Homo sapiens: one gene and its partners. The protein of the gene in region 4 interacts with the protein of the main gene of each other region in a pairwise test. Each region holds a gene or a part of one and is shown on either strand. Other genes may lie near its edges.

What was found. Proteins that work in one complex are often made in the same cells at the same time.
Region 1: the proteins of RNF44 (region 4) and KRTAP19-5 interact in binary tests that used the Homo sapiens proteins (3 or more experiments, as listed by UniProt).
Region 2: the proteins of RNF44 (region 4) and KRTAP19-1 interact in binary tests that used the Homo sapiens proteins (3 or more experiments, as listed by UniProt).
Region 3: the proteins of RNF44 (region 4) and KRTAP22-1 interact in a two-hybrid assay, tested with the Homo sapiens proteins (one large-scale study listed by BioGRID).

The regions. Positions count from the first base shown.
Region 1 is NC_000021.9:30,501,157-30,503,420, reverse strand, and holds KRTAP19-5 (keratin-associated protein 19-5), read left to right. Parts: upstream 1-1,279; 5' UTR 1,280-1,330; coding exon 1,331-1,549; 3' UTR 1,550-1,764; downstream 1,765-2,264. UniProt on the Homo sapiens protein: In the hair cortex, hair keratin intermediate filaments are embedded in an interfilamentous matrix, consisting of hair keratin-associated proteins (KRTAP), which are essential for the formation of a rigid and resistant hair shaft through their extensive disulfide bond cross-linking with abundant cysteine residues of hair keratins.
Region 2 is NC_000021.9:30,479,206-30,481,814, forward strand, and holds KRTAP19-1 (keratin-associated protein 19-1), read right to left. Parts: upstream 1,163-2,609; 5' UTR 1,113-1,162; coding exon 840-1,112; 3' UTR 501-839; downstream 1-500. UniProt on the Homo sapiens protein: In the hair cortex, hair keratin intermediate filaments are embedded in an interfilamentous matrix, consisting of hair keratin-associated proteins (KRTAP), which are essential for the formation of a rigid and resistant hair shaft through their extensive disulfide bond cross-linking with abundant cysteine residues of hair keratins.
Region 3 is NC_000021.9:30,599,648-30,601,882, reverse strand, and holds KRTAP22-1 (keratin-associated protein 22-1), read right to left. Parts: upstream 797-2,235; 5' UTR 763-796; coding exon 616-762; 3' UTR 501-615; downstream 1-500. UniProt on the Homo sapiens protein: In the hair cortex, hair keratin intermediate filaments are embedded in an interfilamentous matrix, consisting of hair keratin-associated proteins (KRTAP), which are essential for the formation of a rigid and resistant hair shaft through their extensive disulfide bond cross-linking with abundant cysteine residues of hair keratins.
Region 4 is NC_000005.10:176,534,603-176,538,890, forward strand, and holds the start of RNF44 (RING finger protein 44), read right to left. Parts: upstream 2,801-4,288; 5' UTR 2,338-2,800; intron 2,047-2,337; exon of another isoform or gene 1,861-2,046; intron 1-1,860.

The DNA of each region.
Region 1 (2,264 bases), on a different chromosome or scaffold from region 4:
GAGATCAGGAGATCAAGACCATTCTGGCTAACATGGTGAAACCCCGTCTGTACTAAAAATCCAAAAAAAATAGCCAGGCGTGGTGGCGGGCGCCTGTAGTCCCAGCTACTGGGGAGGTTGAGGCAGGAGAATGGCGTGAACCCGGGAGGCGGAGCTTGTAGTAAGCCGAGATGGTGCCACTGCACTCCAGACTGGGCGACAGAGTGAGACTCCGTCTCAAAAAACAAACAAACAAAAAAATCAGGAAAGATGTTACAGTGAATACAAAGAGGAGATAGAAAAAAAAAAGCGTTGAGATAAGTCGATGGAAGACAGAGGGAATGTATGCAATAAACTTCTACCTGGCTGTTTCTATAGACATTAAGAAAATGGGAAGAAGAATAAAAGCTGAAATGAGAAAGGAAATAGAGGTCATATATACACTACTGAAAAATGATAAAGAAAGAAAGTAATTGACTAGAATGTGCAAAACAGAGGCAGATGCAATCTGCAATTTTACCAGGACTTTGAATAAAACCAATTATAAAGGAGAGTTTTAGGACTTGAATGGAAAACTAAAGTGCTACTCTGATAAGTCTGCGTAGGAGATGGATTTTGTGCCCTCAATTTCTGAAATTAATTCTTATGTATTTTGCAACCAAAAGGTTCTGAAGCTGGTGTGCAAAGTCAAAAATAGTATAAAAGTTATTGTGAATAAAATGCTAAAAATCAGCATACACTCTCTTTTTTTGAGTCCTTTGGCGATTGTACACAGCAGGGCATTAAAATCATTTTGATTTCAAATGTTTTCCTGTATTGTGCATATAGGCACTTTCTGAAGACCTCACCTTGATAAATAAGTTTGCTTTTTAAAACTATAGATTTAACATCTGTAAATTGAAAAAACAGCTGTAAATTTAGTTGAATATGAAGTTATCAGTTTGGAAGATGACGGACAAAGGAAATTATTCATTATAAAAGGAATACCATAAAGTGTAGATGATGTAATACACCTGGTAATAGGCAATTCTGTTGAGCATTTGGAATGTGCATATTTTGAACAGTAAGCCCTTTCTTTTCATAAAAGCAAAGCAGTAAGTTCAATCGTGTCCTGAATAAGACATTAAGTAAGCTGAAATATTTTAATGAGAATGAGGGCATCTCCCTACATCAGAAGACAATAGATAAATGAGTTGTAACATCAAACGTAATACAAATAACTATAGCAAAGGAGGGTATACAGATGACTCATCACACGCTCTGACCAGGGTATATAAGCCTCCTACACATGCTGGTGTTCACACTCAGGATCTTGCCTTGAGCAGCATACCAACTCACCACTCCTGACACCATGAACTACTACGGCAACTACTATGGAGGCCTGGGCTACGGCTACGGAGGCTTCGATGACCTGGGCTATGGCTATGGCTGTGGATGTGGCAGCTTCCGCAGACTGGGCTATGGCGGTGGCTACGGAGGCTACGGATACGGCTCTGGCTTCGGAGGCTATGGATACCGCAGCTGCCGTCCATCATGCTATGGAGGATATGGATTCTCTGGATTTTATTGAAATCCTTCCCTGACAACCTAACATGAGGGGACATAAGAAGATCACCCAAACCTGACTGCAATAACAAACAAACGAGGTCACCCTGGATCAAGCCAAGATCAAGAGCAGTTAGCATCTAAGAGGTTTAAGAATACCTATCATTCCATAATTCTTTGCTTTATGTCTCTGGATGTGTCTTACTTGTACCTTTATAACTGTGGGGTTTCTCTGTTCCTTTTAGAATAAATTATGCTAACTGAAAGCAAATACACGACTTTTGTTTTTTGCTTGACTCAAAATGGCAAAGTGGTTATTTGTAATTATATCCAGTGAAAAAAGAACAAACTACTATACATATAGAAGTATATTATATATAACAAAATAATTTTGTATATACATGCACCTATCTATATAGCTGTATGTATGTGTGTGCATGTATATATTCACATTCAAAGGTCACAGTTGACCCTTGAATAATGTAGGGGTTAGCAGTACTGATTCCCCCATGCAGTTGAAAATCCACATATAACTTTTGACTCTCCAGAAACCTAACTACTGGTAGCCGACTGTTGACTGGAAGCCTCACTGATAACATAAACAGTTGATTAACACATACTTTGTGTTTTATATGCATTATATACTGTATTCTTACAATAAAGTAAATAAGAGAAAAGAAAATGTTATGAAAATAATAAGGAAGAGAATTTATATTTACTGTTTGTTAAGTGGAAGCGAC
Region 2 (2,609 bases), on a different chromosome or scaffold from region 4:
TGCCGCATTTCAGTGGGAGTTGCCTCAGTCAAATATTGGACAATGGCCTTCAGGGAGATGCTAAATATAGAATGTAGTTCTGAGTAGGAAATGAGTGAAACTTCCCAATCTCCTTGCCGCAACCTCAACTGAAGGGTGGACAAAAAGCAAACACATGCCTGGCCAGAACAGGGGTACCAAGAAGACGTTCAGCTAACAGCAACCAACGTTGCACAGCAGAATATGAGAATGACACTATCCTTAGTGATTCCAGGAACACTTGAGGGACACTTGAGAGGGGCTGACATCCTAAGTAAATAGACAGGCAAGTTATTTTTATCTCTTGTTAATATGATATCTTATTTGTTCTCAAGCTTCCGTTAACACAGTAAACTAGAAACATTTTCATCATATTCCACCATGGAGCCACAGATCTCACTGCCTCATAAGTAAACTTTTTATAGTAGTTGCAAAATAAAATGTTAAATATGACAATGGAAACATTGACAAGAACTAAAATATTTATACTTTACTTCATTTATTAGATAAAAGCAAAATACAAGTTTTTGCTAGGATCTTGATAGATAACATCAAGGTAATGGTGGTAAGAAAAATAAAGCAAATTTAGAAGAACAACCTAGAGTAGTTATACATGAATATGATTTCAGGTGACGGACTCCGAAAGTAAAAAGACAACAAATATTCACAGAAGCAGCTTAAATCTATTTTAAAGATTTAACATAGCTAAATATCTCTCCATTGATGCTGAAGGCAATAGAATGGATTTTTGGAATGAAAGCACGGGACAGGACCAAACACATTTGGAGGTTTCTCCTCTGCTTCCAATTTCAGCAATTCATTTAATAAAAGCCAGAGAATCCGTATCCTCCATTGTACGATGGGCGGCAGCAGCCATATCCATAGCCTCCAAAGCCAGAGCCATATCCGTAGCCTCCAAAGCCAGAGCCATATCCGTAGCTTCCAAAGCCAGAGCCATATCCGTAGCCTCCATAGCCACAGCCAGAACCCCGTCTGCAGAAGCTGCCACATCCACAGCCATAGCCATAGCCCAGGCCACCGAAGCCTCCACAGCTGTAGCCCAGGCCTCCGTAGTAGCTGCCGTAGTGACTCATGGTGTCAGGAGTGGTGAGTTGGTTTGTTGTTCAGGCAAGATCCTGAGTGTGAATGCCAGCATGTATAGGAGGTTTATATACCCTGGTCAGAGCATGTGATAAACATGTGCCCCTCTTTTTGTGTCATTCCATGAATTATACTTGCCTGAGGCAGCTCGTTAATCTATTGTCCCCTGACAACACTCAGTAAGATTGCCTGAGCTTGTTTGGCTACCTAGTTAGGTTGTCCCTGAGCTTGCTGCTTTAATTTTATTAGAAGGGATTGCTGCTTCTTCAAAGTCTAAAACATACCAAACCTTAAATAGAATTCTTTATTACCAGTCACTTAACATCAGTCACATTAAAAATTCTTGAATTTCTATTCAAATATATTCTCATCACTAGCATTTTTGGACGTGGTTATAGTTGATTCCACAAAATTTCAAGAAATAGCCAAGGTCAAGACTCTTACTTTCATCAGTTTCTTCATAAAACACACATATTTTGTAGAGTGAGAAGCAAGAAAGATTTGATTCATCTGTGTATGTACCTGAAAGAAACAAATGTCACCTAATTTGTAGACTTTTAAAACTTTGATCATGCACAATTGTTATATTTATTTTGGGCTTTGCACAACAGCATACAAAATATTTGTTTTGTTTTAAGAACATAGCACAATTGTAGTCATAAGTGGAGAGACTCTTACAGGGATCAAAAGCCCATCTCATCTGGTCTTTCCAGAGTTTTCTATTTATATCTCAAGTCCCTTCTCCATTATATGTTCTAACCTCACTGTTACCAAAAAATGAAGATTATAATCTGCCTTCATACAGAATTGTTTCTCTTTCTCTACCTTTTGTCATTAATTCATCCCTCTTGCATCTTTTGCTGATCTCACTTCAAATTTCACCCAACTTCTTTTCCTCCACAATTCATTACTATAACCAGGTAAAAGTTTGAAGTAGGTAAAATGTTCTGGCTACAACCTATTTACTCAAATCAACATTCATTCTTTCCATTTAGATCTCCATAGTCAATATTTGCCCTTGTCTTTGCCTATTCTGTGCCCATGTTTTTTGTTGTGCTTTGTTTTAACCGCTTTCTAGTTATCTTTTCCTGAGAAATCAACTAGATCTTCTAAGATATTGATTATGGTGTTTCTTGTTTAAAACATTTTTCAACTCTTCAAATTATCTGAAATTTAAAAAAATATTTGTGCAACTTAGATTAACACGAAATTCTCTAAATGTAAGGGACAATTGTGAAAAATATAGAAAAGAAGGAGTAGCTCTGTAGGGAGAGTTGACCAGTGAGTCCCTCAGCTCAGCCCATAGAGTTAGAAATGCCCAAGGCTTACCTCATACCTGATTAAGCCTCATCCAGATGTACCTATATCTTGAAACTTGGAACTCCAGAAAGGTATCAGTTTTATATGACTATAATCATACTACTAAGATTTTTTTGAGATTTATGAGTAACCGAATGACACATTTTAAAATTTTTATTTTATTTAAATTT
Region 3 (2,235 bases), on a different chromosome or scaffold from region 4:
AAAAATGCAACTAAGTATCAAGAAATGTAATGTATGTGCAACAGAATAAAGTGATGAGAAGGGAGGTACTATTTTTGCCAATGATTTTAGTCAAACATTGGATACACTGAAGATGAGGCTTTGATAGATCAAAGTAAATTATAGTACCACTTGGCTCTGCCCATGAGAATACATTTTATCAAAGTACTATTGGTCAGACCTAACACATCCACATCATCAACTGTAAGTTTCCAATGGGTCAGCAACCTTACATATGTGCTCCTGAACACACACACACAATCACAAATAATATAGGTACTCTAGATAAATAAATATAGGTAGGAAAATGCTGTAGGTTTGCAAAATAAATTACCTTTGAAGAAAAATAAATTTAGACTTTTTCCCAAATGAAAATGCTTAACATTATTTGTACTTAATCATATACTAGTAACACAACATCAAAGGTTCTTTTTTCGTTTGATTAAATTGTTGGAAATTCCAGCTAATTGATCAAATAAATTCTGACTTGGCAATGTGGGCTAAATTTTAGTTGTCACTCTTTGAACAGAAAAAAACACGGGAAGAAAACATAGCTCATAAGAGAATGGCCTAAACAGATCAGCAATCTCTAATTTCTCAGAAGCAGCCAGAAAACCAAGATCTTTCATAACACCATGGGCAGTAGCAGGCATAGCCATAGCCGCTAAGACCACAGCCATAGCTGCAGCCCAGGCCTCCTTTGGCATAGCCCTGGCCACCATGGTAGTTGTTATCAAAGCTCATGGTTTCAAGAAAGGTAGGCTCAGTTGTATAGCAGGATCAGATTCTAGAGTTTTAAGTTTATAGAGTTTTAAGTTTAAAGTTTTAAGCTTATAATAAGGGCCTTAAATGCCACATGAATGGTATGTGGGACAAATCACAGGCACTGTTAGATTCACATTCCACACTAATTAGCATTGAAACCATCTAAAATATTCCTTGTAACCAATACATCCAAGACAACTTTGCTGTTTCTCAGGAATGTTGAATATAATGAAATAATGTACCTTTAATAAGAGATCCATCTCCTATTTTGATGACTCGTTTATTTCAGATGTCAAATTTAAACTACATTACCAGCAACCAAGAGTAACCCACATGGCTTCCACTTGTTGTTGTTGTTGTTGTTGTTGTTGTGAGACAGAGACTAGCTCTGTTGCCTGGCTGGAGTGCAGTGGCACAATCTCACTGCAACCTCCACCTCCTGGTTTCAAGTGATTCTCCTGGATTCTCTGCCTCAGCCTTATGAATAGCTGGTGCGTGCCACCACGCCCAGCTAATTTTTGTATTTTTAGTAGAGATGGGGTTTCGCCATGTTGGCCAGGATGGTCTTGATCTCCTGACCTCAAGATCCGCCCGCCTCGGCCTCCCAAAGCCTGGGGTTATGGACGTGATGGCTTCCATTTTTTAAAAATCCTACTTTCACCCAATAATATCCTTCAGCCTAAATACATATATGCAGACTTGGGAATAAGAGTGTAGCTCCAAAGTGATAAGGAAGGATGATAAGCGTGTAAGAGAAGTCATGGTGGCAGCATTCACTTGTAAAATGTTGAGTGATAAGGTGTTTCATCACTTTTTGTGGAGCAATATCATTCTCTTTGGTTTATACTTCACATGTAGCTATCATTTTATATATGATTCTAAACCGTGGCAAAGACTTTGATTTTTGACTTCGTTGATTCTGGGTATATAGTAAGAAAAGGACTTCTATTAAAAATCTGAATTTTAAAACAATTCCAGAATTACTCAAAGATTTATTGGCATCATGACTCCCTGAGATGGCACAAGACAAGAGTTACATCTCTTCCCAAATGTATAACCTCAATCTACATATGAGGAAACCTTAGACAGATTCAATTGGGGAATATTCCACAAAATATCTGGCTCTCTAAAATTGTAAGGTCATAAAAGCCAAGAAAAGACGAATGAACCATGAGCAATTGGAGGTGACTAAGAAGTATAAAAACCAAATGCAATGTGAATTGGATCCAAGAACAGAAAAAAAGAACATTAAAATAAATATGTGAATAGTGCTACAATGAACCATGGTCCTAGAACTTAAAATAAAATAAGTTAATAATAACAGAAAAATGGTAAAATAAAGTCTGCAGTTTAGTTAAGAATACTGTACACAGTTAATTTCTTTGGTGTGATAAGTGGATTATGGTTATGAAAGATATTAATATTAGGGATGTTGAATGATGGATATATGGA
Region 4 (4,288 bases):
GTTTAACAAATTCCCCAGAAGTTGTCACAGCACAGCTAGATTTGGGAATCTCTACCCTAGCTAACCTCAGAAAGCTGGGGAGCCCATAGTTCTGCTGGTGCAGAACAGTCACCATAATAACCATGCTGTTTCCCCGGCGCCAACTTGGTGAGTCCTCCCAGCAACACTGGCAGGTCAGGACACCAAGGCTCAGAGAGGTGAGGTCCAAGGCCAGTCAGCTGGAATCGTGAGTGCGCAGGTGCATGACCTAAGCAGTCTGGCCATAAAGCACCCATGACTAGCCACCAAGCCAGCAGCCTTGACTGCTCCTCTTATGTCAGGATGTCTTGCAGATGGCTGAGTAGTGCCAGGCCCAAGGCACTCCTGCAGAGGCCCAGGCCTGTGGGTGTCTGCTCTGTGGCCAGCCCCCTACAAAGGCACCCACTCCCCAGGGCAGGGAAGGTGGTAAGGAGCTGTGAAAGCAAGCCAGGAGACAGAAGGGCCTCCAGCCGTGGGTAAGAATGTCAGCCCTCACAGACTCACACATGACAGTGACTTCTAGCGAGATTCTTGCCTACAGACCGTGGGCAAGGGCTTCCCCTCCCGAGCCTCAGTATCTTCATCTGTAAAATGGGAACAGCCCAATAACTACCTCCCAGTTTCCCATCAAGGACTGCTCCAAGGCAACAGCAGAAGCAACTTGTAAAGTTTGAACTTAGCTTGGGTGTGAATGATCATTATTAGCGAATACGACACGCTGACCTCCATTTCCAACCTCAAGCAGAGCTTGAAGGGTGCCACTTCCGGGGCAGCAGGCAGATATGCCACTCTAGGGGAATACCTCAGCTGGTAAGAGTGGATCCTGGTTCTTTAAGCCCTGCCAGGAACAGGGGTGGCGTAGAAGGGTTACACCCACTTCATGGCTGAGAAAACTGGAGCCGAGAGAAAGGAAGTAAGTTACTCTAGGCCACAAGACCAGAGAGAACGGAATTGGTCCTAGTTGGCCTCCTAGGCCCAAACTCCCCCAAGCCATAACTCCTGTGGCATCAGTAGCTGGAGGAAATCACCTAATCCCGAGTCTCCAAGCCATACAGGAGGCTGGGAGAGCACTCTCTTTCAGGCACCCATCTTTAGCTCTGTAGTACAGAGAAGCAAGCAAGGCCCAGAGTTGGAGCTAGCAACTTGCTCAAGGTCAAATAGCAAGGGTGGCCAGGTGGCCTCCCCTAACAACTGCTCTGCCCGTCCACATCTCCATGCTGTCCTATCACGGAGCTCTGTGTGAACGGGTCTTGAGAGTCCCGTCGCTGAGCCCCGTCCGCCCCAGGCACGCAATGCATTTTGCAGTTAACATAACCCCCCACACCCACCCATGAGAGCCGGCCAACCCCTTAAGTCCAGTGCCCCAAGCACCTACCCTGACCTTGGTCTAAGAGCCCCAGGGATCTGTTTGCAGGAAGAGACACTCCCTTTTGCAGATAAAAACAAAGTCAGACCCTGGGGGCATGAGCAGACTCAGCCAGGAAGAGAAGCCCCCCTTCCTACTTCCCCACACCCCACCCGAAACAAGCAGGCTCTGCCCAGCGCAAGCAGAGCTTCCCAACGTGTGGTGCCTGGAGGCCGCTGAGGGCCGGACCACCAGACTAGGAGAGAAGACTCCCTAGTGACCTTGGTCAAGGAAATCCCTTTGCTTCTGAGCGCCTCAGTTGGCACAGCTATAAAATGGGGGTGGAAATCTTTCCTTCCCACAGCGCCCAAATAAAACCAGAAGAGTCCAGAAGAAACCAGGTGGTCACACTAGTGGGGGAGGAAACCAGGGTCCTGGGGAAGGGGGGGCTCCCCAACGCGGGCCAAGTGCACGCTGTGGGGCTCTGGGAAGCTTACCCAGCCACCCCTCCCCAGGCATAGTGCTGGGGGGCCGAGGCGCGGACACAGCCCCGAGAGGGGCCTCCCTCGTCCGCTTCCTACTCTTTTGCGCCGCTCTCGGAGGGACACCGGGGGCGGGAGGCGAGACTGCAGCGCAGGGGCCAGAACGCTGCGACTTTAAGAGCCGAGGATCCCGGACCATGTGCTCGGCGTGAGACAAAAGCAACAACAAAGGAAGTGGCGGCCGCAGGGGGAGGGGGGCGGCTCCTTCCTCTCCAACCGCAGCGCTCAGCTGCAGGAGAGGGGAGATACGGCCCGGCCACGGGGGGCCTTGGGGGGGGTTCCTGATCCCTGGGGTCTCGCTGCCCGCAGTCTGGACCGCCCGTGATTAACCCCTACGGAGCCACCTAGATCACGGCCCCCATTCCCAGGGGAGGGGAACAGAAGGTCCATGGGTGGGGGAATAGGAAGTTGGGGGCCCTGGCACCGACTCACCTTTGGCCGCCCGGCCACACGTTGACTCCTTTGTTCCCGATCTAGGACGGCCAAACTGGGCAGGGGGCGGGGGAGGGGGGGGGTGCCTGTCTGGATCCTTTAAGAGCTCCCGCCCTGCGGAACAATGTGCTCCCCTCCCCACCCCCGGGTCCGGGGGCAGCCCGGCTCCTTCCGGGGCCTCTCTCTTTGTTGTCCGCCCGACGGCGTCTGCCTCGCGAGGCCCACGCGCGATCAGTCTCTCTCGGCCCAGGCCCTCAGGGAGCGGGAGGCGGCGCAGGACGCAGCTGGGTCTGCGCGGCAGCCGGCGGCTGGCCCTTTAAGAACTGTCCGCGGCGGCAGCGGAATGTAACAAACCCCACATTTGATTCACAACATTCGAAGCGGCGGGGTCGCGCGCCAGACGGGAGGGGGCTCGCGGGGGCGCGCCGGGAGGCTCCGGCAAACAGTAGCCCGCTGCAAGCCCGCAGGGGCCCCGCCCCGCGCCGGGAGCTCCGCCCTGAGAGCCAATCACTCGCCGCGACCACGCACGTGACTAGTGGGCCACCATCTTGAATTTTTTTAACCTCCTCCTCGCCCCCACCTTCGCACTTAAAGGGACCGCAGCCATAGTCAAAAGCAAGGGGCGGGGCCGCATATCCTGACATAAAGATGGGGAGACCCCAGGGTGGGCAAAACCGATCGGCTGCAACTCGAACTTGCTATGCAAACTCGCTAACTACTCGCGCCTCTGAGGCTCAGTTTCCCTGCCGAAGAAATGGGTCCCGCCAGGAGAACCGGCAGTACGGACTTACTGTGTCATGGTCCCCTCCTCGGGGACAGGGTGCCGCCTGAGATACTGAAGTGCAATGGGTCTGACCTCTGACGGGGCGAGAGCGGCCCAAGTGGTTATGCTGGCTCTAACAACCCTGGGCCGGCCACCTTCCCGGAGATGACGTCACCCCCAAGAGCTGCAGCACCGCGCTGACATCATGGCCCGGCCGCCCCACTTCTCCTTGTTTATACTACACGGCGTCTTTAAAAAGCTGGTACGGCCCAGATTGCCCAACAGACCAATGGCGGACCACCCATGCAAACGAGCTAACGTCTGCCGGGCAAGGAGATTGGCCCTGCTCGCGCTGACGTCACAGAGACATTTAACCGCCACGCCCCCAGCGTGGCGGTGGAGGAAGAGAGGCGGGGAACAGGTTGTAGTTTAAAGCAAAAGTGCAGGCGCTGGGCGCTCTAGCTGCTAGGCTGGGCTTGAGAGTTTGGTGTCCCCGCGGAGACCTCCCTAGCCAGGGAAACTGGGAACTAAGCCCAGTGAAGCGTCTATACTTTAGTTTTCTATTCCTCTCAGCAGCTATGAGACGGAGGGATTACTATAGCCAGTTCATTTTACAGATGGGGAAAGTGAGGGCCTTCCCTTACTCCAGATCACACAACTAGAAGTGTGGCGGAGCAGGAGTGTGAACCTAATCCAAAGCCGAGCCTCGTTCTCCTTTGCCTCGAAGCCCACCCACCCGGGCAAAATTTATACAAAATGGGGTATTACCTCCACCACAATTATATAAGCAGAAAATCAGTAATTTGCTAAATATCCAAGAGCTGGAACAGGTCGAATAATGAATATTGGGTGCATGCATATAATCAATAACGACTCTTGGGCAGTTACCACAAAGAGGCAGCTGGAGGCGACACGGGGCTATCTCCAAGACAGCCATAAACAAGGCGCCAATGCAAAATGTTAACATCTGTTAACCTGTGTGGTGGGCCATGGGGCAGGGGGATGGGGGGCTCATTTTCTATGCTGCTTTGGTATATTTCGTAATCCTAAATTTTATATAAAAATTGAAACCAAGATGCTGAACAGTTCTAACAGTATGTATCAGGTTTCTTTAATTGGACATATGCCACATCTGCATATATTTCTGGAAGGGTATACAGGAAACTGATTAACAATTGTCCTTAGGGA